Homo sapiens: one gene and its partners. The protein of the gene in region 1 interacts with the protein of each later gene in a pairwise test. Each region holds a gene or a part of one and is shown on either strand. Other genes may lie near its edges. The genes, in order: CPSF6, UBAC1 and PPIL1.

Region 1 (11,020 bases):
TGAAGAGACAGGGAAAACTGCTCCCAGCAGAAGGAATATAAAGTGAGGTGGTCAAACATTTGGTGTACCTAAAGAAAAGGAGAAATATGGAGAAATACTCACTGGAGAACAGTGAGTAAGGGGAGAGGTACAAAATGAGGCTAAAAAGATAGGCAGGGGCTTTATCACACAGTCCCTCAATCTTTACAGTCTTGCTTTAAGACTGAGTAGGAGCCTTTAAAGGGTTTTAAGCAAGCAACTAACATTTAGAGTTAAAAAAAAAAACCACTCCAGCTGCTAAATAATCAGTAAGTAAAAGCAAAGTCCTCCTTTTAAAGTCTCACAGTATTTTTTCCATTTGTAAACTAACAGTTTTTTTAAATGGAAATGAGACAGGAAAGTTTTACCTTGATCCAGAACCATAAGACTTGGACTCAATTCCATGAAGGCAATCTTGCAAAGAACTAATAAGAACTTTGCAACGATCATCAGCAGATACTTTGGATTGTTTAATTAAAGAAATTGCAGTTACCAGTGTCTCAATAGCACTCCCATAATCACCTGTGAGGGAAAGGAAAGGGTTTGAAGTCAAACAAATTTTGTTTTCAAAACACCATCAAACCACTTGGGATAAGAGTGATAAGGCATTTTACAAAAGTACTGTGCTATAAAATAACTATGCAAGACAATGTCTTCTTTCAGTGTTTCACCATTTGCAAAAGCCTTTCATGCTCATGATATTGACTCAACTTATTATACGTGTGTGAAGCACATTATCATTTTGCAAATATAAGAATAAATAAGGTGTCATGAGGCCCCTGAACCATTAAATGTCAAGGGTAAGACTTAAATCTATACCAAATAACTTAAAATTTGGATTTTCCCCACTACACTGTGACACACAACTTTTTTCAATGCTTTTTAAATAAATCGTAGGTAATGATTTGGGAATATAAAAAGAACTACTACATGTAAATGACCTATCTTCTAGATTGTACTTACATTTTTAGGTCATTCCTAATAACATAAATAAGAAATATTAATACAAGAAATACACAAACCAGCACTGGCATCAGACACAGCTCTCGAAATAGCACTGCTTGAGATTGCCCTATTTCTATTCATGATTTCTTCAAATTCAGCTTCACTCAATGGCGTTCTTGCAGTATCCATTTCCCTGTAAAACAAAAACATAAACCTTAACTCATACTCAACAGATTTCCTCAGTTAGTCACAACAGTGTATAGCAATTCATACTAGCTGCTTCTGACATGTGCTTTAGAGATAGTAGTTACTTTTCCATATTGAAGCATGCTACTTTTCCAACAAAGAGAACAAATCTAAAAATTCTCCTATACCAGTATCTTTCAGCTAAAACAGGGTAGCAGCTTAAACACCTCATCTTCTTGGAAGGCAGAAATAACATATTTATATACCTACAATCTAATATTTACAGTCATTGTTCCTATCTTTTATCATCAAGTACTTTCACAGATACACACTAACTTACCTTCCAGGGGGGCCATAGTCACCCCTATCATATGGTGGAGGTCGCCCATATGGATCTGTTGGTGGTGGACCTCGGCTATCTGATGTAGGCATGCCACTGTTAGTTGGTGGAGGAAAGAAAGCTGGGTTCACATGCGGAGCTGGCGGTGGGGCACCTGGAGGTGGTCCAGGAAGATGCGGAGGAGGAGCTAGTGTAAGGGGTGGCCCAAGTGGACCGGGTGGACGAGGTGGAAAGGGGCCTGGAGGTGGAGGTGGTCCCTGTTGTGGAGGTGGTGGGCCAGGAGGGGGGCCGTAGCCTGGAACTGGAGGTGGAGGGCCAGGAGGAAGTGGACCCAATGGAGGCTGCCCAAAAGGTTGTCCAGGAAAAAGAACTGGTGGTGGAGGGCGATCTCCTCGATTAGGAGGCCCAGCTAGAGGAGGAGGCAGAACCTGACCAGGAGGTGGAGGACCTGGTGGACCAGGTGGGCCTGGAGGACCTAAGGGTGGACGTGGTGGAGTCTGTCCAGCTAAAAAACAAAGGAGAAAGAGAGAAAAAAAAACACTTCACTAATAAGATATTTTAACTTTTATATGCCAAGATTATACTTTAAACGCATAGAGCATACACCAAGTCTTTGTCTTTAAATTAAACCCGTATGGTAAATGTTACACTACCAACTACAATGAAGTATATCCTTACAAATTTAACTAGCTCAATTTATGCTTAAGAAAAATTATTGAAACGAAAACTTTAATAAAAAAATATTACAATGCCTAGAGATATTTTCCATCTTTCCGTGTACACACACTTCTTACAGTGAAATCACCCACCTTATATTCTACTCTGATGCCAAGCTAGAAAGTGAAACAAGGAAAAATGATCTTGAAAGGATTTTTTTAAGAGGTAAGAAAGTAAGACGGATGTAAATATTCTATATATAAGTCAAGCAAGTTTGGAGAAAAATAAAGACCTTTTAGGCCAAAAATGGGTATTTCCTCTATGCTGTGCCCCATATGCCATGGAATCCTAGTTTCCAGGAACAAAGGCCGAGTTCCTTTAACAAGATGCTTGATCAAATTTCCTGGATTCCAAAAATAGCATAACAAGGAGAGTAAGTCACATTAATAATGCATTACTTGAAAAAGAGAGAAAAGGAAAAGAGGTATTAGGTAGACATGTTTTATCCATGGTAATTTAAGAAAAGTTTTACCTGGAAAAGGTGGGGGTGGCCCTCCTGGTCCTGCTGGCCCAGGAAATCTGTCCCCACCAGGAACAGCCCCTGGAAAACGGCCCCGTCCTCTACCACCTTGTGGAAATGCTGCACGGGAACTGCCTCCTGGAGGACCAGCTTTACCTTCCCCAGACATTTGTCCTGATTGTGTAGCTGCAAATATCCAAATACTCATAAATAGCACTTATTAAAAATAGTTTTCTGAAATGTAACCACTATTATTAAAAACAACTCTATTTCTAATATATTAACTTGCAAATGCCTTGTGCCTATGCAAACTACATAAGAAAGTATGGTTTAGGAAAACATTCACATCTATTTGGGTACTTTTAAAGACTCAAAATATCCAGGTTTAAATATATTTTCCATAGGTAATCGTGAGTTACTTTCAAAATACCAGCACTCTGCAGCAGCCAAGACCGAAATTCTTCAACAGATATCTTAATTTCAGTATTACATCATTTAAATTTTGTAACACACTTCTTCAGTTAAGTCTTAAGTGCTAAAACATTAAAAGAAAAGGAACCACTTGAATTTCTGTTAATTACATAATCATCCATCTCATCTCTTTAAAGATAATGTACTTAAATGTATAATGACAAATCTTTTCTATATTCAGTTTACCAAGTGGTGAAAGGTCTTGTTGCCAAGCAGAAAAATCAATGAACATTTTCTGGTTATCAGTGATCTCTCCCCCACCATAATACACATCCACATAGCTCTCCTTTAATCTAAGAATTAGAATGTAGTTTCTTTCTGTATCTAAGATGGAAATAATAGGACAAGAATGGCAGGGCTATAGAACTTGCACATTGTTGTATAGTATTGGGTCTGTTACATCTGGAGAAAAATGGAACAGGAGTAGGTTTCTCGTACACAGGCCCACAGTCATAACCAGTGATTAAATCTAATTCAAAGCATGGACTTTGTGAAATGGAGTTCCTAGTGAGCTAGTATTAAGATGACTTCTCTAGTATAACACCTAACAAATGCACTGGTTAAAATGTACATATTTTAATAAAAGCCTCTGAGGACTGCTTACTTTTCCTGGACTGCATTTCAAATTGACTCAGGAACTGTTTATTGCATGGAGTTACAACAGGATTCTGACCATGAAGTTCTCTTTTAGGTAACAGATCCATTAACTTTTTTGAAGATGCTTCAGATCCAACACCAACAAGGGCAAACCTAAAAAGTGTTTAAGGGGTGAGGATACAAAGTAAAAAGAGATCAATATTATTACTGTTATTCTTCTGTAAAAAGGTCTTAATCTGCTTTTATCTAAAACAACAGCTGGGCACAGTGGCTCATGCCTGTAATCCCAGCTGCTTAGAAGGTTGAGGCACGAGGATTGCTTGAGCCCAGGAGTTTGAGGCTACAGTAACCTATAATCACACTACTGCACTCCAGCCTGGGCAACACAGTGAGATCCTGTCTCTAAAAATAAATAATTTTAAAAACTAAAAATATTTCTTAACTATACGAGTACACATTTTTGTTCATCTTGTATAACATACCATAGAATTCAGTCATTCAAAATATATAATTCAGTGGTTTTTAGTATTTCACAGTGTTATAACCACCACCATAATCAATTTTAAAACATTTTCATCACCCCAAAAAGAAACTCCATATCCATTAGCCATCGCTCCCATTCCTTCCCATCCCTGTACCCTATGGAACCACTAAACCTAATTTCTGTCTCTGGACTGGCCTATCCTAGACATTTCATCTAAATGGAATCATACAATAGGAGGTCCCTTGTGACCAGCCTTCTTTAACTAGCATGTTTTCAAGCTTCATCCACTGTTACAGCATGCATCACCACTTACTTTTATGGGTGAATAATTTTCCATTATAAATATACAACATTAAAAGAAATGTATCCATCAGTTCATGGACATTTGGGTTGCTTCCACTTTTTGCTACAATAAAAAGATGTACAATATCATTAACTATTGGGGAAGTGCAAATCAAAACCACAAGATACCACCCCATACCCACTAGGGTGGCTATAATCAAAAAGACAAGTATTAAAGATGTGGAGAGGCCGGGTGCAGTGGCTCACGCCTATAATCTCAGCACTTTGGGAGGCCAAGGCAGGAGGATCATGAGGTCAGGAGTTCAAGACCAGCCTGACCAACATGGTGAAACCCCGTCTCTACTAAAAATTCAAAAATTAGCCAGGCATGGTGGCGTGTGCCTGTAGTCCCACGCTGGGAGGCTGAGACAGGAGAATCGCTTGAACCTGGGAGGCAGAAGTTGCAATGAGCCAAGATTGCGCCACTGCACTCCAGCCTGGGTGACAGAGTGAGACTCTGTCTCAATAAATAAATAAATAAATAAATATGTGGAGAAACTGGAACCATTGCACATTGCTGATGAGCACGTATTAATAAAATGGCACAATGCCTCTGGCAAATAATCTGGTAATTCCTCAAACATTTAAACATAGAGTTACTATATTAACCCAGTAATTCCATTCCTAGGTACACATCCAACAGAACTGAAAATACATGTTCACACAAAATGGGTACACAAATATTCACAGGGGCATTTTCCTTAATAGCCAAAAGTGGAAATAACCTAGACGTCCATCGACTGATAGATTAAAAGAAAAAAGTGCTATATCCATGTAGTGGAATATTACTCAGCCATAAAAAGAAATGCTGATGCATGCTTCAACATGGATGAACCTTAAAATCATTATGCTAAGGAAAAAAGCCAGTCACATAGGACTACGTATTTTATGATTCCATTTAGATGAAATGTCCAGAACAGGCATATCCAGAGCACGTTAGCAGTTGCCAGCAGATAGGAAGAGAGGAAATGGGAGTGACTGCTAACCAGGTACAAGGTTCCTTCTTGGAGTGATGAAATGTTCTGGAATGAGACAGTGGTAATGGTTGCTAAACTTCATAAATATAATAAATTATCATTGAATTGTACATTTAAAAGCCTGCATTTTATGGCATATGAATTATACCTCAAAAAGAAAAACAAATTTAAAATAATCAGAATGATTACCAATTCGTATAGTTACAGGATATTCTAAATTATTTGAGGGAGGGAGGGTCTTAGTAGCTTAAGAAGCTTAAGCTCTTTTCCCCCTAATGTTCAATATGATCTTTTAAATTATCCTTCTTATTTTAGTCAACAAGTTCTGCTGTTTGCACCAGGATTATCTTGGGTCACAACATTTAGAAAAAACTAAATTAATTTAACAAATATTTATTAAGCACCACTTCTTATACGCAAGGTACCATTCTAGAGCTGGAGAAGTAATAGAGAACAAAACAAAATCTCTGTTCTCATTAAGCTTAAAGGCTTGGAAGAGGAGACAACAAACGAGTAAAATATATCAGAGCAGAAATAAAGGAAACAGGATAGGAAGGTGCTACTTTGCACAAGATGGTCATGGAAGAAAACTCTTAAACAGTTTGAGTCCTGAATGAAGTCAAAGAGTAAGCCATGTGGATATTTGAGGGGGAAAAGTAAACCAAGAAGAGAAAACAGCTAAAGGTCCTAGGTAGGAATTGGTCTGGCCAACAGCAAAGAGACTAATGTGGCTGAAAAAGAGTGGTAGGATAGGGTTAGAAAGGTGGTGGGAAAACAGACCAGAAAGTACCTTGTAGACAATGGTAAAGAATGAGACAGACAGGAAACCATGAGAAGATTGAGCAGAATGTCATTTTTTTTTTAGAACTTCTGTTATGTGGAGTACAGACTGTAGGGGGCAGTCTATACTTCCAGTTAGGAAGCTACTGCCAAAGTTTAAGTGAGAGATGATAGTGGCTTTGACCAAGTGGTATAAGTAAAGTTAGTGAGAAGTATTCAGACTCTGCATATATTTTGAAAATATTCTCAGTTTAGTATAAATTGGTATAATCTTCTAAGATAAGTAAGCAATATAAGAAATAAGAAAATTCTTTATCATTGTGCATCTAACAATTTATCCTTAAAAGAAAATCCAAAATCTGTACCAAAAGACTTATATAAAATGATGTCTGCTGCAACATTATTTACAATAGGCAAAAGTGGAAACCACCACGATAACCAAAAATAAGAAAGGTAAATTACAGTAGCATACCAGGTATGATGCAAAAGAATTAGACATTAGAGAGGATGTGTATTTATTTTTATTCCTTATATCAAACATATAAAACACATGAATTATAATTCCATTATTTATTTATTTATTTATTTTTAGGAAAAAGCCCAAAAGAATCTTCACTAAAATGTTAAAAGTAAACATCAATGAATGGTAGGACAGTGGTATTTTATTTTCTTACTTTTAGATATCTGTATTTATAATGTTCTCATGCTGAGGCTATCCCACTTGTATAGTTTAGTAGTGAAATAAAGCAAAATATCCATGTAACACATTATTCAGTTGCCCATCTTCTCCCATCTCTTAATCACAGGGAGAGTAATGGTTCTTAAACTGTCATTTCAACAACCATTTCAACCACAGATAGAGAAAACTTGGGAAAAATAGAAAATAAATCTGTCCACATTTCCACTCTACTGGTTTTAGTGTGTTAGGTAATAGGGTACGTAAAATGAAAAGTATCAATCTTTGCCCAAGAACCTCCTTCCAATGTAAACAATCATGTGTTGTTTGTATACATGTGTATACATGTGTAATTAACATTAACTTAAAGGAAAGTTAACTTGTAAAAACTGTATCACTAGCTACTAAATCAAAAAGAAAGAAAAAAAAAACTTACCCCTTTGACTGGCCATTTGCCCGATTTTCAAAAAATTTTATCTCCAAAATATCATTTACTCCCAAAGAATGAACTGCTTCAGTTAAGTCTTCATCTGTTGTCCACTGCAAGATATTTTCCCCCTCATTAACCATTAAAATAAAACCAAGATTTTTATTATCCCAGTCTAGTTTTTAAGGGGAAATTTGAGACATAAAAGAGAAAATAAATGCTGAGTGCAAATCTAAGTCTAGTTATGGCCAGTCAGACTCCAATTTTTAAACAGCACAAAAACCATCTGGGAACCTAACTTCATTCCCTGATAAGTATTTCAGAAACTAGAAGGTATATACCCTTGGGGTTACAATAAGATTTGACTCTCAAGAGTTTCTGGTCCCTTACAGCTTTAAACTGCTATGATTTTAAATTGTGAATAAAACCAATTTCACTTCCTCCCATTAAAGGAAAGTATTTTGAATTTCATCTTGTTTTTGAATTAAAATGCAGATAAGAAAAAACTAACATGTATTTAATATCTACCATATACTTTATGTATCAACTAACTCTTATAACAACCATATAAGCACTATTATTATACCCATTTTACACATGATACAATAGAAGTTAAAGAGCTTTAACTCTTTAACAAGGTCACAAAACTAATAATAGATGGTGGAGCTAAGATCCAAATACTTACTTAGCAACCATACTTTCATAACTACACTGCTACTGTCTCCAATTTTATAGAATACTCAGACTGGGTGGTGGGAGATCTGTTACATTTAGTTTTAAAAGAAATGTAAATAGGCTGGGCACCATAATCCTAGCACTTTGAGAGCTTGGTTAGGAGGATCACTTGAGGCCAGGAATTTGAGGCCAGCCTGAAGCAATATAGCAAGAAGTCAGCTCTACAAAAGTGTTTGTTTTGTTTTTAATTAGCCAGGCAGAGTGACACATGCCTGTGGTCCTAGCTACTTGGAGGCTGACACAGGAGAATCACTTCAGCCCAGGAGTTTGAGGCTTCAGTGAGCTATGATTACACCACTGCACTCCAGCCTGGGTGACAGAGTTTTGCAAATTCTGTCTCCCCCTGAAAAAAAGAAATGTAAATAAAACGTTTAAAAATACAGTGTTATTAAGGAAATGCAAGGGTGCCAAGTTTTATTGATTTTTGCATATACAAGTTTTTAACTTTCAAGTATACATATAACTAAGTAGAAATACAAACATTCTATAGGACTATTTTAATGATACTTAAGATGTAATATTAATAAAAAATAAATATACATATGTGCATTTAATGAAGCTCTAAATCAATAATCTTAGTCTCATGACAACCCAAATTAAAATATAATACGCACAGAAGTGCTTCTATAAATCAGATTTCAAATTTAAGGGCAGAAATAAAACTCAAATTTGTAACACAAATTAAATAATGGACACTATTTTTAAACCAGGAGTGATACTATGTCTCTTTCCTTTTACACTTGAATCCTGGTTTGAGACCCCATGTGAGCATTATTTTTAGTGAAACTGGGCTATCGGAAGCAAGGTAAAGTGGTAGCATAAAAAAGGTAACTGAAGACAAAACTAATTTAACTATATTTAACTAGTATCTCCACCAAGAAAAGTTGAATGACCACAAAACTCAAAACTAGAAGAATTCGAATTAACGATGTTGCAAAGATATTTGTATTTCCCTCCTCATTGGACAAGCAAACACATATAGAAAAACACAGTAACTTCAAACTTATAAAAATCTGGAGAAAAACATTAATTACTAGAGCAGTTCAAAATCAATTACCAATAATTTAATTCTTATATTAACTTCACTTACCCATGTTAGATTTCCAATATATAATGCAATTCTCTTTCCAGTATATGTATAGACAACATTTGGTGCTGCTCCTTTACCCACATCATCACCAACAGTTGGTGGGAGAGTATCCATGTAATCTCGGTCTTCTGGGGCATCTCCATTATTTGCAGATGGAGATATGACATCGTCATACAAATCTATCTGATCATGCCCACCATATTCAGCTTCCTGAGATACAGAAATAATGCTCTAGATTATACAAAAGTCAAAATACTACTAAAATAGACTTGAATACAAATTCAACTTTTTGTTTTAAAAATCTGATGGAAAAAGGCCAAGGATTTCAGTACAAATCTTTTTCCACTTTATGCAATAGATGTATTCTTGAACAGGTCTAAAAAGTGAATTTCTTGCCGGGAGTGGTGGCTCACACCTGTAATCCCAGCACTTGGGAGGCCGAGGCAGGTGGATCACTTGAGGTCAGGAGTTCGAGACCAGCCTAGCCAACATGATGAAGCCCTGTCTCTACTAAACATACAAAAATTAGCCAGGCATGGTGGCACACGCCTGTAATCCCAGTTACTCAGGAGGCTGAGGCAGGAGAATCGCTTGAACCTGGGAGGCGGAGGTTGTAGTGAGCCAAGATCGTGCCATTGCACTCCAGCCTGGGCGACAGAGCAAGACTTCATCTCAAAAAAAAACAAAAAAACAAAAAAAGGGGGTTTCCTTTATTTCTTTTCTTTTTTTTCTTTTTTTTTTTTTTTTTGTAGAGACCAGGTCTCGCTACATTGCCCACGCTAGTTTCGAACTCCTGAGTTCAAGCAATCCTCCTGCCTCGGCCTCCCAAATATAGGCTTGAGCCACTGCACCCAGCCTAAAGTTAATTTCTATATAACGAAACCTACTTTTCCACTGATATTTATTATAATATAAAAAATAAGTTCTTTTGGAAAAAGACATGGAAACAAAATAAGTAACATGAAACTTTCCTTGGAAATACTCTTAACTAGAAGTAATAACACACAAATGCAAATAGACAAGTTTTTTTTAAACTGACAGTAGAAAAATCACCCCAAAATCCAAAGCCATTATATCTTTAATATGACCACAGAAAAATAGTTATTATTTTCTATAGTATTCAGATCTTGTTTTCCAACCTTGAGGAAGCTACCAGTATTAAAAAAAAGCATAGTGAGCTGAGCCATAAAAGAAAGAAGAAATATGGGTATGTAAATAATTCAAAATGTCGTAATAAATGAACAAGGTAAAGAGAAATAAACGAAATACATGTAGAACAATCCAAATTAATTATCTTGCAAGTTGTATTATTCTCAGTGAACAAAGAGCTAATGCTTACCTGAATTCTTAGTTATCTAGTCAAGCAAATTAGCAAGAGAAAAGCAACAGACAACAAAAAGAGTATAGTAAAGCTTTGGCACTGTCACCAGCAGAATTAAAGCAATGCTACTGGGTGTCACTTACATGCCTAAATGATAATCAGGGAAAAGGAAAACTAAAATGAAACAGAAACAGGAGCAGGAAAAAAATAGAAGAGGGTTCAATTTGTAACTAAGTACATGAAAAATGAAATGTAGGTAAAAGCAGAACACTCAACACTATTTAATTGCCTTTGATAACCATTAAATAGACCATAAGCTTGACTAAGCCTGTAGCACAGGAAAATCTCCATTTTTATCTTCTACTCTCCCTTTCCACAACTAAGTACTTGTATTGGTGTGAACCATTTTATTCTTATGACATAGAACATCTGACATAAGGAAAAAGACAATTAT
Region 2 (11,020 bases), on another chromosome or scaffold:
GGACCACAGGTGTGTGCCACCACACCCAGATAATTTTTGTATTTATGAATTAATTTTTAAGTCAAAGTGACGTATGTTTTTAAAAGGTCGAATAATACTACAAATCTTTTAATAAAAATTAGCAGTCTTGGCTGGGTGCGGTGGCCCACGCCTGTAGTCCCAGCACTTTGGGAGGCTGAGGTGGGAGGATCACTTGAGTCCAGGAATTTGAGACCAGCCTGGGCAGCATGATGAAACCCTGTCTCTACAAAAAATATAAAAAGTTAGTTAGGCTTGTTGGCACAAGCCAGGCAGTGCACACCAGGCTGGAGTGTGTGGTACGATCTCACCTCACTGCAGCCTCTGCCTCCTGGGCTTAAGTGATCCTTCTCCCTTAGCCCCAGGAGTAAAGCAGCTGGGACTATAGGTGTGTGCCACCACACCTGACTAATTTTTGTATTTTTTGTAGACATGGGGTCTCACCGTGTTGCCCAGGCTGGTCTTGAACTCCTGGGCTCAGGTGGTCTGTTCACCTTGGTCTCCCAAGTGTTGGGATTACAGGCGTGAACCACCATGCCCGGCCCAACCACTCATAACTCTTGTTATTTTTAACAATTCTCTTCCTGATTTATAAATAATATGTGTATATTATTATTCCTTGAATGACCAACTTTAGTCTCTATTGACTTCTTAATGAAGAGGCTATAGTACCTCCCTCTCTCCTCCCTTGAGGGTTAGATCATAATGTTGAAGATCTCAGGGTTTTCATTACTAGTATAATTGAAGTGTGGTTTTCAGCTGTGAGCAAAATAGATTAAGATTATCTATCCTTCTTACACAGCTGTATTTTTCCTGGAATTAATATTTGCCTCTTCCTTTTGTTTGCTTGTTGAGTTTCTTATAGGCTTATCGCTGATTTTTTCATGCTCTTCCACAGAGCCGATAAAGCTTCTGGAAACGTGGTCACAGATGTTAGGTCACTGGGGTGTTCCCTCCCTCCAGATCCCTCTGGCCTGCGCATCTGTCTGAGTCGCTGCCTTCCAGGCCTGCTGCACAGCCTGGCTTTCCTGCCTCTTTCCCGTGTTAGAGTTTGCTAAGTCTATGCAAGTTTTCCGTTGCCACCTAACAAATCGCCACACATGTAGCTGCTTAAAACAGCACTCCGCTTGTAGCTCGCAGTTCTGTAGGGCAGAAGTCTGGCTGGGTGAGCTCAGCTGGTTTCTGTGCTCAGGGTCTCGAGCTGAAATCAGGGTGCCGGAGGGCTGTGTTCAGGGTGCTGAAGGGCTGCCTTCCTTTCTGAGGCTGGGGAAGATTCTGCTTCTGAGGTCTTCCGGCGGTTGGCAGAGTCCAGTTCCGACCCATTTTCTTGCTGGCGGCCAGCTGGGGGCTGCTCTCAGGGCCTGGGCGCGGCCTGCATTCCTACCCGCACAGCCTCCTCCTCCTTCAGAGCCAGCAACAGGACTTCTGAAGTGTTGAATCTCTCTTTCCAGAAAGAGACCCATCCCTTTTAAGGACCTGCCTGATTAGTTGAGGCCCACCAAGGATCATACTCTTTCCCCACAGTCGGCTGTGCCGCGTGATGTAACCTGACCCCAGAGTGGACTGTGTCCTGCTCATGCTGTGCAGCCACGCACGGGCAACTGCCAGGCCCGGGGAGCGTGCGGCCGTCCTCGAGTTCTGCCTGCCGCAGGACCAGGTGTCTTGTTCTTCTCGATCTGTCCCTTGGTCTGGTGGAGCCTGACTTCCTCGGGTGCCAGGAGGGGAAACTGTCTGGAGGCCTCGTATTCCAGCGCAGCAGCTGTGGAGGGGGTGCCAGCCGTATGCAGTACGTGAGGCAGCTCTGAGCCGCTCCTCCCTGCACCAGCCGCCTCCCCTTCCTCTGCTCCTTGTAGAACCTTCTGCCATCTGGTGTGCTTTAGTGTTCTGGAATATTCCATGGTGTCTCTGCTGCAGGTCTTTTTCTCTTTGCTATGTCCGGCACATTGACTCTGGAGATTCAGATGTTTGAGTTCTGGGAAATTTAGTCCTGGAAAATGTTCTGAATTGGTTTTTTGATCTCCTTGTTTTCTTTTCTCTTTCTGTAACTCTTATGAGTTGGCTGGTAGGCGTGTTTTCTGAGGGATTCCTTGATTTTATCTTCTAAGCATTCTGTAGCCTCTTTGATCTGGCTGTAACATGTTTAAATTCCTAGGCCAGTTCTCCTCCTCAGATGATGTCTTCTAGTGTTCTGGTGTGTTCCTCCGTGGGCCGTCTGTCCTGGCTCATAAACACTATCCTCTTCCCTGCTGACTCCTCACTTTGTGCTGCTTTCTGTTGTTCCTTTTTTTTTTTTTTTGAGATGGTGTCTCACTGTCACTCACCCAGGCTTGAGTGCGGTGGTGTGATCTCAGCTCACCTCCCAGGTTCAAGTGATTCTCCTGCCTCAGCCTCCCGGGTAGCTGGGATTACAGGTGTGCACCAGGACACCGGGCTTATTTTTGTCTTTTTAGTAGAGATGGGGTTTCACCATGTTGGCCATGCTGGTCTCGAACTCCTGACCCCAAGTAATTCACCCACCTTGGCCTCCCAAAGTGCTGGGATTACAGGCATGTGTCACCTTCCAGAGGCCCTGGATCTTGATAGCAGCGCTTTGGGACTGGGTGGCTGGCTGGGGCACTGCGCTTTGGGTGTGGACCCTGCCATTTTGCCCCCTCCCACCTCTTGGCTGTGTCTGCCCCGCTCCCCTGCCACTGGGTCTCCCTGTGGAGGGTGCTGGGGTGCCGCTTTCCCTCTCATGAGCCTAGGGCTCCTGGCCCGGGGTCTCAAGCCCAGCTCTCTGGGAGTTGCCGGCAGGACTGGATGGCAGGGGAGCACAGGGCAGGGTGGCGGGGGATGGAGCGCTAGCTCCTGAGGCTCGCTCCTTGTCCCCTGCCACCGATGCAGTTCTAGGAGGCTGGAATGGTCTTGCGTCCATGCTCTGCTCTTGGCCTGAGCCTTTGTAGCTCCGCTGATCCCTCCATCCTCGTCCTCTGCCGTCTTCTGAGAATGTGCTGTCACTCTTCCGGTTCTGTTCCTCTCCCATCACTTTTGTTCTCGTGAGTTTCTACTGCCATGACTGCCCTTCAGGAGCTTCCAGAAGGAGCAGAGATGAGTTCGTGGTTTTGGCCTCGGGGCTCAGCTGCAGCCTGGGTGGTTCTTCTGGAGTCGCCTCCCTTGCCCCAGCCCTGCCACGGTCCCTGTGTGGTTGTCGTTCTGTGACCCTTGCTCCTGCTCTGCCCCTCACCTACCGCTTCACTCTTATTTACGTCAGAGCAGACGCTGAGGACACGTCTGCTGTCCCTGGGCCTTGCACAGAACTCTCCAGGCTCCCCCAGCTCATCAAGGAGTTTACACCTCTGGCTCCTAAAGGAGACGGAGTCTTTCTTGGGCAGAGCTCCGCTGATTCAGTTGTCATCGTCTTTTTGCTGCTCTTACGTTCACCTCAGACTTTCTGATTACGTTTCTGTGTAGAAAAAACAAGACCAGAAAGCTCCAGATAAAGAGGCCATACTGCGGGCCACCGCCAACCTGCCCTCCTACAACATGGACCGGGCCGCGGTCCAGACCAACATGAGAGACGTGAGTGTCAGCCCAGAGCGGCGGCGGGTGCATGGGGTCCCCGTGTGGGGGATTGCTGTGGGGGGGTTCCTGCGGGGCGGGGCAGCAAGAGGAGATTCTCTGGGAGGATTTGGGGAAGCCGGTGAGCGGGTCTGTAGGACTGCACTATTTTGCATTTTTTCTGTAAATCAAAAATTATTTCCAAGTAAGAGTTGGAAAGCCATCTGAAGGCAGGATTGAAAAGATAGATACCCCTGGGAAAACGTCAATCCGGCCCTGAGTTTGGCAAAACGTTTAGATAGAATTCTGAACCCGAAGCGGGTGGATCACCTGAGGTCAGAAGTTCGAGACCAGCCTGGCCAACATGATGAAACTCCGTCTCTACTAAAAATACCAAAAATTAGCCGGGCGTAGTGGCAGGCACCTGTAATCCCAGCTATTCAGGAGGCTGAGACAGGAGAATCACTTGAACCCGGGAGGCGGAGGTTGCAGTAAGCCGAGATTGCATCATCGTACTCCAGCCTCGGCAGCAAGAGCGAAACTCCGTCTCAAGAAAAAAAAAAACACACAAATCTGAACCCGTGAGTTATTTTGGGTCAGAACATTCTAAGTTAAAAAAGAAAAGTGTTTGCAGTGCTCACGTGGACGCCGCAGCAGGCAGGGCAGGCACGTGCTGTGCCGGGGTGGGAGGACGGCTGGCTTCCAACTTCATCTGATGCCAGTCCAACCTAAGGGCACTGCTATAAGCCCTGTTTCATTTTAGGAATGAACCTCTTGGGGTGTCTTCCAGAGAGTTCTGTGCTGACCAGGGCATGGTGGCTTTTCCCCAGCAGCCAGCATGTGTGTCTCCCATCCTGTGTGTGTCCGGCTCAGAGGTATTTCTCTAGTGTGGTGTCCGCACCAAGGCTCACACTTGTGTGAGAGTAGGGACAGCTGACGCCTGACCTCTAGGCCCTGTAGCCAGGAGCTGTTCTGGAGGGCATCTCCGGTCCATCCCACGGCTCCTCCTGCCTGGGGAGGACAGTGATGGCCGCCGCAGACGCTGTGTGGCAGCCATGCCTCCACTGGGGGCTGGCAGACTCATGGGGGTGGAGCCTCAGATGATTCTGTTTTCTTCAGTGAAGCCAGAGAGGGTCTTCAGCTTGCCCTGCACCTGCGCCAGCTGGGCCGACGGTTTCCTCACAGGGCACAGGCTGAGTATCGGGCCAGCACTGAGTGACCGTCACCAGGCGTTCCTGTCCCTTTCCACTGGCTTCAGTCCCACCTGCAGGGAGGCTCTTGGCCCTGCCAATCCCCTGCCTTGCCCTCAGCTGATCCTGCTGTCTTGCAAGAAAGCAATGTCATCTCAACTCTCAGAATCAAGAGTTCTAGGACAGGGGAGCAAGTCATAGATCCAAGTAGGTTTGGTGGACATTTAGAGAATTGATCTCCTTTTTTTTCACCACAGTTCCAGACAGAACTCCGGAAGATACTGGTGTCTCTCATCGAGGTGGCGCAGAAGCTGTTAGCGCTGAACCCAGATGCAGTGGAATTGTTTAAGAAGGCGAATGGTATGAGTCAACCCCGATGCTGCATTCCAGGGCGGTTCACTGCCGGCCTTGGGGAGCGTCTGCAGCTCCACGCACTGACCACTGACCGGAACCTCAGTGCTTTATGGAAGCGCTGATGAGGGCCTGGGGCCTGCCTCACCGGCAACTCCTGTTGATGTGCCTGAGGGCGGGCAGGTGGAGCTCAGACAGATAATTGCTGCAAATGTTTGTGCTCAGATAAGGCCCCTGAACCTGAGGCTGGAGCCCTCATGGCCCTGTCGTCTCCCTGCAGCAATGCTGGACGAGGACGAGGATGAGCGTGTGGACGAGGCTGCCCTGCGGCAGCTCACGGAGATGGGCTTTCCGGAGAACAGAGCCACCAAGGCCCTTCAGCTGAACCAGTGCGTGGGGGGCCACCTCCTTCCCTTGCCGGAGACACCTGGGGCCTGGTTTTGTGGGGCTCCCACCGTGGGTGACGTCCTCCTACCCTAAACTCTTTGACTGAATCATTTCTAACGTGGGGTTTTGAAGAGGTACCTTAAATATGTGCCTCCAAAGTGTTTTTGGGGTGAATGTGACAGAACAGTCGTTGTGTAAATTCTCTTTGGGCCGTTGTATGAGAACTCAAGGTGAATCCCGTTCGTAGCAGGGACACGGCCTCTAACAGTCTTCTCAGGATTCCCGTGTGAGTTACTTGCCCTGCTTCTGTGTTCAGATCTAAAATGAATAATCCGAGATCCAGGGGCAGCCGGGGGCAGTTCCCCCTGTGGTCCCTATCTAAGCCCTCAGCAGATATCTCTGGGTCCGCTTGCCTCTCCTTAGACATGGGCTTCTGATTCTGCCCAGGGTCTCAAGGTAGTCTGAGGCAAGGACCAGCGCTTCCGTCGCACCTGTGTTCATTCAGGTTCTTGTTATAAGGGTCACCAGCTGATGCTGGAGAAGTCACTACCATAGCAGAGGCTCTTCTTGGGAATGGACAGGAGGCGAAGGCCCTGGTCCGTTAGTCTGGGGATGTTGGAAAGAGTCTCTTGCCTTGCAGCATGTCGGTGCCTCAGGCCATGGAGTGGCTAATTGAACACGCAGAAGACCCGACCATAGACACGCCTCTTCCTGGCCAAGCTCCCCCAGAGGCCGAGGGGGCCACAGCAGCTGCCTCCGAGGCTGCCGCGGGAGCCAGCGCCACCGATGAGGAGGCCAGAGATGAGCTGACGGAAATCTTCAAGAAGATCCGGAGGAAAAGGGAGTTTCGGGCTGATGCTCGGGTATGTGTTACTAGACCTGTCGCCAGGCAGAGTCGCTGTGTCTTCCCTTGAGGTGGCGCCATGGAAAGGAAGCTGGGGCTGCATGGCTGACCTTGGGCTGAGCTGGCTCCTGTCCCAGGAGAGAGAGAAGCTGGGGAAGGGGTTTACAGGTGGGCCTGGGAAATGGCGAGCCTGGGGGCGGTGGGCCTGGGGACCGTGGCCCGAGTTTCTGAGCACACCTGTAAGTTATCCTGGCTTGAATCCAGGCGCCCCAGTTTCCTCTGTGTTGCCACATTCGTCACCTTTTGAAAAACTTGATATTTTACAGTTCCTTCTGACCACTCATCCACAAGCCCCCCCTGTTCGGCAGCCTCTCTGCGGGGTGGGGGCCCTGCCCAGAGACCGGGAGGGTCATTTGCCGTCGGGGGTGTCCATGAGCGAGGGGCCGCTCAGGCTGCCAGCCGCCTCCATGGCACAGTCTGCAGGGCTGAAGGGTCCCTGCGCCTGTGTGTGTGGACCTTCCTCGCCCGCGCCTCATCTCCCCATTCTTCCTTCTCTCTCCTGTTCTTTGATTCGGGTTTTACTTCCTCCTTGGAGGTTTCTGTCTGTCTCCGACATGCTCAGATGGCAGATCTGCTCCATCTGCATGCTGTCGTCTCGTGTGGCACTGATCGTTTCCTTGGGGTGTGTGACATTGTGCTGTGGCCTCACCTGCGGAGCTCGTGTTTTCCATGGAGTTCCATGTGGCCAGGCTGTAGACATCCACCTGGGGTGATTCTGAGTTTGCTTCTGCTGGTGATGAGTGGGGCCCCTGCCCCACCATGTCCCGCAGTGTAACCCCCGGCTTCGCAGCTCAGGTCTTCCCTGCACAGGGTTCCGTGGAGACAAATGCTTTTCTTTGTTTCTTTTAAAATTTAATTTAATGTTAAGTTCTGGGATACATATGCAGGATGTGCAGGTTTGTTACATAGGTAAACATGTGCCATGGTGGTTTGCTGCACGTGTCAGCCCATCACCTAGGTATGAAGCCCAGCATGCACTAGCTATTTTTCATGATGCTCTCCCTCCCCCAGACCCCCTGATGGGCCCCGGTGTGTGATGTTCCCCTCACTGTGTCCATGTGTTCTCATTTTTCAGCTCCCACTTATAAGTGAGAACATGAGGGGCTTGGTTTTTTGTTCCTGTGTTAGTTTGCTGAGGACAGTGGCTTCCAGCTTCATCCATGACCCTGCAAAGGACGTGATCTCGTTCCTTTTTATGGCTGCATAGTATTCCATGGTGTATATATCCCACATTTTCTTTATTCAGTCTATCCGGTTTCTTTTCTTATCCGTGGGCATTTGAGTTGATTCTATGTCTTTGCTATTGTGAGTAGTGCTGCAGTGAACATACGTGTGCACATATCTTTATAACAGAATGATTTCTATTCCTTTGGGTATATACCCAGTAATGGAATTGCAGGGACAAATGGTATTTCTGTTTCTAGGTCTTTGAGGAATCACCACATGTCTTCCACAGTGGTTGAACTAATTTACATTCCCACCAGCAATGTAAAAGCGTTCCTATTTCTCCACAGCCTCACCAGCAGCTGTTGTTTCTTGACTTTTTAATAATCATCATTCTGATTGGCATGAGATGGTATCTCATTGTGGTTTTGATTTGCATTTCTCTAATGATCAGTGATGTTGAGCCTTGCTCTGTCGCCCAGGCTGGATTCTTCCTGCCTCAGCCTCCTGAGTAGCTGGGACTACAGGCACACACCCACCACGCCCAGCTAATTTTTGTACTTTTAGTGGAGACAGGGTTTCACCATGTTGGCCAGGCTCGTCTCAAACTCCTGACCTCAAGCGATCTGCCCGCCTCGGCCTCCCAAAGTGCTGGGATTACAGGTGTGAGACACTGCGCCCGGCCAACTGTCTTCTTTTGAGAAGAGTCTGATCATGTCCTTTGCCCACTTTTTAATGGGGTTGTTTTTTTCTTGTAAATTTGTTTATTCCATGTAGATTCTGGATATTAGACCTTTGTCAGGTGAATAGATTGCAAAAACGTTCCCTTCTGTAGGTTGTCTGTTCACTCTGAGGGTAGTTTCTTTTGCTGTGCAGAAGCTCTTTAGTTAGATCCCATTGAGACAAATGCTTTTCTAGTCTATTTTCTCATCTTTTCAGGGTCCTGTTTTAAGTAAGGGTCTCAGTTCCCACTCCCTACCTCCCATGGGCCCAAGGCGCACGTTCTGTCTGTGTGTAGACATCAGACCCCGCCCTCCCAGGGCAGCCCCTGCGCACACCCTCTCCCAGGGCTAGCTTTCTGTCTCTTCCTTCTTGGGTTTCTCACTTGTGGATATCCCTTTCTTGTGAGGTTAGCTCTGCATGTAAAAGTTTCTCTTTTTTTTTTTTTTTTTGAGACAGTTTCACTCTGTCACCCAGGCTGGAGTGGCGGTGGCACAATCATGGCTCACTGCAGCCTTGACCTCCTGGGCTCAAATGATGCTACTTCAGCCTCCTGAGTAGCTCTTACAGGCACGCACCACCACACAGGGCTAATTTTTTATTTTTTAAAATTTTGTACAGATAGGGATCTCCCTGTGTTGCCCAGGCTGGTGTTGAACTCCTGGCCTCAAGTGATCCTCCTGCCTTGGCCTCCCAAAGCGCTGGAATTACAGGCATGAGCCATTGTGCCTAACCTAAAAGCATTTTTGTTTTATTTTCATCTAGCATTTCTAGGTTTAGCAGGAAGTTTGTCTCGTTGTGCTTGTCTCCTAGGGAGCCAAGTTTACATCTGATCCTGGAAGCCTGTCCAAGTGGAGCAGTCACTCTCCAGCTGGGTCCCTTGTGCTCTGAGGTTGGACTTCGCACTCTCGTGTGTTGTGGTCCTGCACGGTCTCTTGGAGGTTGTTAGTCATATACTTTCTTGCCATCTTAAGCCTTTTTGTTAAATATGGATGCTCATTCTTAACAATCTTAACGTGCTCGTTTTCCTAAGATCTTCCCCATTGCCATTCCCTCCCGTCATCTCTCTGTGTCAGAACAACATTCCGTAGAATGTCTTCTTTGATGAAAATCATCACAAGGTGGTCAAGGCTTGAGGGGCCAGCCCATCAGTCCTCCTAGCCTTTGGTTTCTGTACAAGTCATGAGATCAGGCAGTCGTCCAGTAGGGATCGAGATACTAGCTTTGTTACTGAGAAAGGATTGGAGAGCTCTGACTTGAGGCCAAAACAGATTTCCTGCTGCCCCTCCCTTCCCAGTGGTAGACAGGATGCCTGCTGTCCGGGGGCAGAGCTGGCAGGGCCCGACGTCCTGCAGCCCGTGAGCGCAAGGCCCCTCTCCCATTGCCCACAAGCAAGTCTTTGCCCCCATGGGCTGGGAGGGAGGGCAGGGACTGCCAGGTGTTGCCTTGGGAGTACTGGGGCATCATTTCCTGGGCTGAGGTAGAAATGAGCGACAGTACTTCCTATTGAAGCTAGTGAGGAGGGCATCCTGTCCTTGAATTCAGTAGATTCCAGGCTATTCTGTATGACTTTGATATCAAAATATTGTGCGGTGGGTTCTTCCAGAGTTCATTGTTGGAGCTCCTGGATTAGGGTGTGGCTCAGGAAGGCAATTGTGATGGACCATAAATAGAAAATACAGAGTTTTTTCTTTTTTGAGATGGAGTCTCACTGTGTCGCCCAGGCTGGAGTACAGTGGTGCGATCTTGGCTCACTGCAACCTCCACTTCCCAGGTTCAAGCGATTCTCCTGCCTCAGGCTCCCGAGTAGCTGGGATTACAGGTGCCCGCCACCACGCCCAGCTACTTTTTGTATTTTTAGTAGAGATGGGGTTTTCCCATGTTGGCCAGGCTGGTCTCAAACTCCTGACCTCAAGTGATCCTCCCACCCCGGCCTCCCAAAGTGCTGGGATTACAGGCGTGAGCCACTGCTCCCGGCTGGGACTTTTGACCTGATCATGCACACAGTTTAGCTCTAGCCAGCATCCTTCCTGAGCTCCACCCCAGCTGAAGTCTTTTTCTGCCAGGTTCTCTTGGAAGCATCTGATGGTGCAGTCCAGACTGGCTGTGGACGTGCACCGTCCGCGGGGTGCAGTGCTGCATGAAGTCAGCCTGGGTGGTGCTGGGAGCTGTGTGGGGCTGGCACCCCTAGACCACCTTATGGTGGCCGGAAAACTGCCAAAGATGGAGAGGACTCTGGGGGCTTCAAGAGAGTGGGATCTGACCTTTCAGGGATTAGGAGAGGCCCTTGAAATTTTGATGAAGCCTTCATCTTACTTATTTATATTTTTTCAAAATGGACCCCTTTAAACATTGTGGTATAAATCTCCAGAGTAGAGGATGTATTATCTTGTTACATGAATTGTGTCCAGAAAATGTATGTCCTTCCCCAAAAACGAATTAGCATATGTTCAGTTGTAGCTTAAGTTTTGTTCAATATTAAAAGTTAAAAAATTAGTTTTAGGATTTTTTTTTTTTTTTTTTGAGATGGAGTCTCGCTCTGTCGCCCAGGCTGCAGTGCAGTGGCGCGATCTTGGCTCACTGCAAGCTCCGCCTTCCAGGTTCATGCCATTCTCCTGCCTCAGCCTCCCGAGTAGCTGGGACTACAGGCGCCTGCCACCACGCCCAGCTAATTTTTTTGTATTTTTAGTAGAGACGGGGTTTCACCGTGTTAGCCAAGATGGTCTTGATCTCCTGACCTGGTGATCCG
Region 3 (7,495 bases), on another chromosome or scaffold:
TCGGGAGGCTGAGGCAGGAGAATTGCTTAAACCTGGGAGGCGGAGGTTGCGGTGAGCCAAGATGGCACCATTGCACTCCAGCCTGGGCCACAAGAGCGAAACTCTGTCTCAGAAAAAAAAAAGGAATTAAAAAAAAAAAAAAACACAGATCATAAAGAAGAAGGTTAAGAAATGTTAACTGCAAAGGTTCTGTTCATTGGAAGATCCCATTACAAGAGTGAAAAAAGTTAACTGGGAGAAGGTATTTGCAAAACATTCACTGACAGAGGATTAGTATCTATAGTATATAGTTGAGCCTTTACCAACATGGGTTTGAACCATGGAGGTCCATACAGTTTTCTCAGAGCCCACAGCGGGACTTGAGCGAGCAGGGATTTTGGTGTCACAGGGATCCTGGAACCAATCCCCTGAGTATACCAAGGGATGACTGTATGTATCAATTCCAAAATGTCATACCACTGAGTGGCCGTTCACAGAGGGGACAAGCTAAATAAGCCAGTAAACATGAAATTATGCCAAACTTCAGAGAAATGCAGTTTAAAACACCACAAGAGGTCTCACACTTCTCAGACTGACAGAAGGACCTAGAGCAGTAAGAGTGAGAGTGCTGCGGGGTGGGGTGCATGTTGGTTCATCCTTTTCAATAAGGCACTTAGAAAAATCTAGCAATGATGAAATACTCAAACTATGACCCTGTGTATCCCCTGTGAGGTATTGGCCCCCGAGAGCTCTTGCACTTGGATTTCGGAGACAGTATAAGAATAGTTTTTATAGCATGGTCGATAATAACCAAAACATTGGAAAGATCCTCAGTATCAACACCAGAAAAGATAAGACAGAGCATTATGGTCATACAGTGAGGTGAACACTACAGAGACCTGCCTGGAACAAAGTAGATGAGTCTCTCAAACAGTGTTGAGAATATATAAAGTGTAATACCACTTATGTAAGCTTAAAAACATGCAAAACAACAATACTTTTTTTTTTTAGGGGTACATAGATGTGTAGTAAAAAAGCTTAAAAACATGCAAAACAGCAATACTTTTTTTTTTTTTTTTTTAGGGATACATATATGTGTAGTAAAAAAGAAAATGCATGGAAATGCCAAATTCTTGTCAGAATAGTGGTTACCTGAGAGGAAAATGTGATTCTTTGAATCAGCTGTTAGCTCTCAGGAGAATGAGTGGTGGGGAGAGATGCAGTGGGGTGTATGCATGGGGTCTTAGCTGGATTTGCAATAGTTTATTTCTTGGGGGCGGAGGTGGTCATAGATATTGGTCATATTATTCTTTGTATGTTTGCGTGTCTGAAATAAATACATTGAATAAATGATCCCAAGAGAGGACAGAGGACAGAAGAGGAAAAGAATCTCTTTTTTTTTGGAGACAGACAGGAGTGCAATGGCGCAATCACAGCTCACTCTAGCCTCGACCTACTGGGCTTGAGTGATCCTCTCACCTCAGCCACCTGAGTAGCTGTAGCTGGGACTGCAGGCACGCACAACCACGCCTGGCTAATTTTTGTAGAGACGAGTTTCACCATGTTGCTTAGGCTGGTCTCAACTCCTGGGCTTAAGAGATCCGCCCCCTTCAGCCTCCCAAAGTGTTGGGATTATAGGTGTGAGCCACTTGTACCTGGCCAGAAAAGAATCTTGAAGGTTCTTTTCTAACCTGTAATCAAAGGTTAGAAAACAGGTCTTGGCCGGGTGTGGTGGCTCACACCTGTAATCCCAGCACTTTGGGAGGCCGAGCCTGGCAGATCATGAGGTCAAGATTGAGACCATCCTGGGCAACATGGTGAAACCCCATCTCTACTAAAAATACAAAAATTAGCTGGGCATGGTGGCGGGCGCCTGTAGTCCCAGCTACTCAGGAGGCTGAGGCAGGAAAATCACTTGAACCCGGGAGGCAGAAGTTGCAGTGAGCCGAGATCGCACCACTGCACTCCAGCCTGGTGATAGAGTGAGATTCTGTCTCAAAACACACACACACACACACACACACACACACACAATAGAAAACAGGTCTGCCTATCTTCATTGTGTCTGTGCTAGACCAGGCACAGAACCTGCAAAGCTTCCAAATTGTTGGCTTTCTAACTGATAATTGACATCTGAGTAGCATGCTCTGCACTGGAGAACTCTTTAATCATTCTCTGTCCCTCTGCCACCTCTCACTTATTCCACGTGCCCAGAGGAATGTTTGAATTAGAATGATTTGTCTTTCTGAAATTTTGCCGCAAACCCTACTGAGTTGAATTGGGTTATGAAAAGATAACATATTATGAGTAAGATATTATGAAAACTCTGCCTATTGAGTAAAGGTGATCTCCATGCTCTTTCCTCCTGTATCCTCTGATTCCCACTTCATCTGTGACTTTTTTTTTTTTTTTTTTTTTTTGAGACAGGGTCTCACTCTGTTGCCTGGGCTGCAGTGCAGTGGTGCGATCTCAGCTCACTGCAACCTCTGCCTCCCAGGTTCAAGCGATTCTCCTGCCTCAGCCTCCCAAGTAGCTGGGATTACAGGCACGTGCCACCACGCCTGGCTAATTTTTGTATTTTTATTAGTGATGGGGTTTCACCATGTTGGTCAGGCTGGTCTCAAACTCCTGACCTCATGATCTGCCTGCCTCGGCCTCCCAAAGTGCTGGAATTACAGGTGTGAGCCACCATGCCCAGCCCATCTGTGACTCTTGACTGACCTATTCCTTAATGCACTTCTTGTTTGTGGTGATGTTTGTGTGATAGTTTACCATTCCTAGAGGGCAGGGTCCTGGGGGGTTTGTTCTGGTAGCCCTCAGGTTGCAGGGATCACACTTTGAAGCTCAGGCCACAGACTGACAGCGTACTACTGAACTGAATCCTTAGCTTGCTCACTCAAGTCCTGCACGCAGAGCCTGGCCTCTGTGGCGTCTGGCCCCACAGCCCTCTCCCTAGTCTCTGGTAACCCCAGCCAGGAACCTTGACTCTCTAGTGGTTGCCAAAGGACCAAGCAAAGGGGAGGATTGAGTCAGAGGGAACATATTGGTTATATAATTGCTGTTTGGAAGTATACTGACAGGTTGGAATTTTTGGAATGAGTTTTACACAGTTTAGTGTGGTTCAGTATTTTTCCAGAAGCATAGGTAGCCTGGGCCAAGTGGGAGGTTTCCCCTAGTCTGTTAGGATTCACCCCCATCCCTCTTTGCATGAGAACAGTGTTTTCTTCCGGAAAAGAAACGGGGGCTGTGACAGGCTCCCTGTGGTGAAGCCGACTAAAAGGTAAAGCAAAGGATTTTTGCCATGGAAACACCTTAGCCATGCCCAGGGGCCTTGGGGGTGGACTTGGTGCTACTTTTATAGCAGGCAGTAGAGGAAGTGAGCTGCCAGCACTGGGCTGCAGGGCAAGCAGAGTACCAATCCAGTGTTTACTTTGTTCTAGGCTGTTTTGTCGTGACCGTTCAACTTGGAGAAACCAATGTAGTTCAGTAAGGCATATGATTGACTACATAATTGATTAGTATTGGTTAGGAAAGTTGCCTCCTGTTTTGACATGTTTTCCTGTGAGAAAACCATGTTTAACTTACATCTTTTTTTTTTTTTTTTTTTTTTTTTGAGACAGTCTTGCTCTGTCGCCCAGGCTGGAGTGCAATGGCATGATCTCGGCTCACTGCAACCTCCACCTACTGGGTTCAAGCAATTCTCCTGCCTCAGCCTCCCAAGTAGCTGGGACTACAGGTGTGTGCCACCATGCCTGGCTAATTTTTTTTTTGTATTTTTAGTAGAGATGGGGGTTTCACTATGTTGGCCAGGCTGGTCTCGAACTCATGACCTCGTGATCCACCTGCCTTGGCCTTCCAACGTGCTGGGATTATAGGCATGAGCCACCGCGCCTGGTCTAACTTACATCCTTTTGCTCTTAGAGCAAAACCTGCCTGAGCTTAGGGTATCCAGCCCAGCACCCTGCTCTTGTGGGCATAATATAAATAACATTTGGTGGTGATGCTGCTAGCAAATAATTCCCAATCCCATGTTTCTTCATTTTCCCTTTATTCATTTATTTAGAGTCAAGGTTTTGCCTCTTGCCTAGACTGGAGTATACTGACATGATCATAGCTCACCGTAAACTCAAACTCCTGGGCTCAAAGCAGTCCTCCTGCCTCAGCCTCCTAAGGAGCTGGGACTACAGGCATGTGCTACCACATCTGGCTGAATTTTAAAATTTTTTTGTGAGCCAGGTGCAGTGGTTCACGCCTATAATCCCAGCACTTGGGAAGCCAAGGAGGGAGGATTGCTTGACGCCAGGAGTTTGAGACCAGCCTGGGCAACGTAGCAAGACCCCATCTCTAAAAAAAAAAAATTTATGGAGTCAGGGTCTCGCTCTGTGGCCCAGCTCAAACTCCTGGCCTCCAGCAGTCCTCCTGCCTCAGCTTCCCAAAGTGCTGAGATTTTAGATGTGAGCCACCACACCTGGCCCTGTTTTCTCTTAATGATGTACTGCCTCACCTCTCAGTGGACTCTGCCGACCGTAATGTCCCTTTCTGCCACATTGCCACTTACCAGCTATTTCTCCTTCAGCTGGATAGCTTTAACTTAAATGAATTTTATTTTCCATCACCTAGGTTAAGGGTGGCAAATAGGTTTCAACTCTGGGGCTATTACTGATTAATTAATAACGGCTGCCTGAGTTCTGGGTTGATAACATTCAGAGGCAAATCTAGCTCAGCAGGGAAGAATACTGATTGATTGGCAATGTCTGTGATGGGCACAGGGATAGGACTTGGGGCACTCATGTCTAAAATACTCAAAAAAAGGTTAAAAATCAAGAAACCTCTTAACACATCAGATTATGAATGGTGGTTATCTCTAGATGGTCAGGTTACAGAGGATTTTAATGTTCTTTTGATAATGTTCTATGTTTTCTACCTTTTTGATAGTGAACATGTATTATTTTAATGTGCAGGAAAAAATAGCGTTATTTTGAAAAGGAAAGTCTTATCGGAATGAAACCAATGATTTGAATGTGCTATTAGTGCTAGATTCTGTAGTTGCAATATACCTAGCAGTGGGGTAGGTGTCACTGCCTTTTCCTTTCCTCTACTCTGAGAAATCCTTTGACCCTGGGCCATCATTCTTGCTGTGAGATAGAATGTGTGACTGGCTGATTCATGTGTCATCTTCCAATCGGGCAGGTCGAGGTGGTGCATCTATCTATGGCAAACAGTTTGAAGATGAACTTCATCCAGACTTGAAATTCACGGGTAAGTGTATAATTTGGCTGGACTGGGTAGGAACGGGGATTTTAAAAGCTCACTCTTTTGGCCATGATTCAAGGTGAATGCCTGACACCGTGGCATGGTGCCAGATAGCTGCCCAGCCATGGCGCCATGAAGTGCCCTGGTGGATTAGAGAAAGCAGCGCCTCTCACAAAGTTCTGAGCAATTCAGAGCACTGGTCGGTGTGTTCTAGACTCTAACTACTTGTTAAAGGTCACAGGATATCAAAAGTGTCCTCAAAGAAACAGGAAACCTTGCTGGGTTTTTGAGGGCAGTCAGGAACATGGTCCACAGTTAGTGAGGAGCATCAGGGGTCAAGGCTGGGGAATAGGTGAGGACAAGGAAGATGAAGTCGCCAGAATAGTGTAGTGATGGCCTTTGTACAGGGCAGAGAGACTGCCCTGAGGGGTTGTCTGGGTCTGGACAGAGGCCAGAACAAAGTCCTGGCTGCTTTTTCATCCCTAGGATGGGGCAGCAGCTCTACACTGGACCTGTGGGGTTATTTATACTCTTTCCTTTCTTCCTTTTTCCCACCAGGGGCTGGAATTCTCGCAATGGCCAATGCGGGGCCAGATACCAATGGCAGCCAGTTCTTTGTGACCCTCGCCCCCACCCAGTGGCTTGACGGCAAACACACCATTTTTGGCCGAGTGTGTCAGGGCATAGGAATGGTGAATCGCGTGGGAATGGTAGAAACAAACTCCCAGGACCGCCCTGTGGACGACGTGAAGATCATTAAGGCATACCCTTCTGGGTAGACTTGCTACCCTCTTGAGCAGCTCTTCTGAGATGGCCCCAGTGAACCAGCTTCTAGATGACATAGAATGACATGTAATGCTAAATTCATTTTGGCTTTGCAAGTCATGAAGCTTAGGAGGCCTGGCATCTTGGGTGAGTTAGAGATGGAAGTACATTTTAATAGGATGCTTCTTTTCTCTTCCCCCAGTGCCTAGGTTGCCAGAGCATTTGCACAAATGCCCCTGTTTATCAATAGGTGACTACTTACTACACATGAACCATAATGCTGCTTCTTGTGCATGTCTGCTCTGATATACGTCGAACAATGTAGCAGCCACTGTCATTTCTCAGTGGTTTTGCCTAACCAAACTTCTTCCTAAGGAGATTTATATTCTGGCCTACACAGCAGTCCTTGATGGCTGACAGCCACAGAATTCCAAACCAAGTAGTGTCTGTCAGCCCTCTTAACTCTGTGCACGCCCTATTTCAGTCTTTTACATTTGTTCTTCTAGGGAATGTATGCATCTCTATATATATTTTCCCTCTCAAAACCAGAACATCAACAGTGCTGTTTCTGACACTTCAGACATCCCACGCAAAGCCACATTGAATTTTTGCCAAATGAAAAACACATCCAACAATCAAGTTTCTAAGAAGGTGTCAAGTGGGGAATAATAATAATGTATAATAATCAAGAAATTAGTTTATTAAAAGGAAGCAGAAGCATTGACCATTTTTTCCCAGAGAAGAGGAGAAATCTGTAGTGAGCAAAGGACAGACCATGAATCCTCCTTGAGAAGTAGTACTCTCAGAAAGGAGAAGCGCCACTCAAGTTCTTTTAACCCAAGACTTTAGAGAAATTAGGTCCAAGATTTTTATATGTTCAGTTGTTTATGTATAAAAATAACTTTCTGGATTTTGTGGGGAGGAGCAGGAGAGGAAGGAAGTTAATACCTATGTAATACATAGAAACTTCCACAATAAAATGCCATTGATGGTTGAAATTGCTGCTGTGGTCTGATTCTAAATATTGTATGAGGTTCCAATGGTCATTTTAATCCCAGTCATCTTAAGTAGTAGTACAGAGATTGAATGTTCAAGATTTCACATCATTTTAGGCTTGTGGATCTCCAGTAGACTTCTCCCTCTTTAAGAGCAATTCTAACTTTAAAAGGGCAGAACCAGAGAAAGAATTAAGTGACAGAAATTGACATTTCTGAATAAGAGGTGTATTCATCTGTTTTCACATTGCTATAAAGACACTACCTGAGACTAGGTAATTTATAAACAAGAGAGGTTTAATTGACTCACAGTTCCACATGGCTAGGGAGACCTCAGGAAACTTACAATAATGGTGGAAGGCAAAGGAGAAGCAAGCACCTTCTTTACAAGGTGGCAGGAGAGAGAGCGAGCACGGGGGAAACCACCATATTTAAACCATCAGATCTCATGAGATCTCCCTCACTATCGTGAGAACAGCATGCAGGGGGAAAATGCCCCATGA

Evidence for each region.
Region 2: the proteins of CPSF6 (region 1) and UBAC1 interact in a two-hybrid assay, tested with the Homo sapiens proteins (2 studies listed by BioGRID and IntAct).
Region 3: the proteins of CPSF6 (region 1) and PPIL1 interact in binary tests that used the Homo sapiens proteins (3 or more experiments, as listed by UniProt).

The regions. Positions count from the first base shown.
Region 1 is NC_000012.12:69,249,564-69,260,583, reverse strand, and holds part of CPSF6 (cleavage and polyadenylation specificity factor subunit 6), read right to left. Parts: intron 9,456-11,020; coding exon 9,246-9,455; intron 7,534-9,245; coding exon 7,430-7,533; intron 3,888-7,429; coding exon 3,742-3,887; intron 2,853-3,741; coding exon 2,679-2,852; intron 2,550-2,678; coding exon of another isoform or gene 2,439-2,549; intron 1,995-2,438; coding exon 1,490-1,994; intron 1,157-1,489; coding exon 1,041-1,156; intron 541-1,040; coding exon 387-540; intron 1-386. UniProt on the Homo sapiens protein: Component of the cleavage factor Im (CFIm) complex that functions as an activator of the pre-mRNA 3'-end cleavage and polyadenylation processing required for the maturation of pre-mRNA into functional mRNAs.
Region 2 is NC_000009.12:135,940,354-135,951,373, reverse strand, and holds part of UBAC1 (ubiquitin-associated domain-containing protein 1), read left to right. Parts: intron 1-3,468; coding exon 3,469-3,576; intron 3,577-5,002; coding exon 5,003-5,105; intron 5,106-5,376; coding exon 5,377-5,485; intron 5,486-6,123; coding exon 6,124-6,346; intron 6,347-11,020.
Region 3 is NC_000006.12:36,854,329-36,861,823, reverse strand, and holds the end of PPIL1 (peptidyl-prolyl cis-trans isomerase-like 1), read left to right. Parts: intron 1-5,169; coding exon 5,170-5,238; intron 5,239-5,790; coding exon 5,791-6,011; 3' UTR 6,012-6,995; downstream 6,996-7,495. UniProt on the Homo sapiens protein: Involved in pre-mRNA splicing as component of the spliceosome. PPIases accelerate the folding of proteins. Catalyzes the cis-trans isomerization of proline imidic peptide bonds in oligopeptides. Catalyzes prolyl peptide bond isomerization in CDC40/PRP17.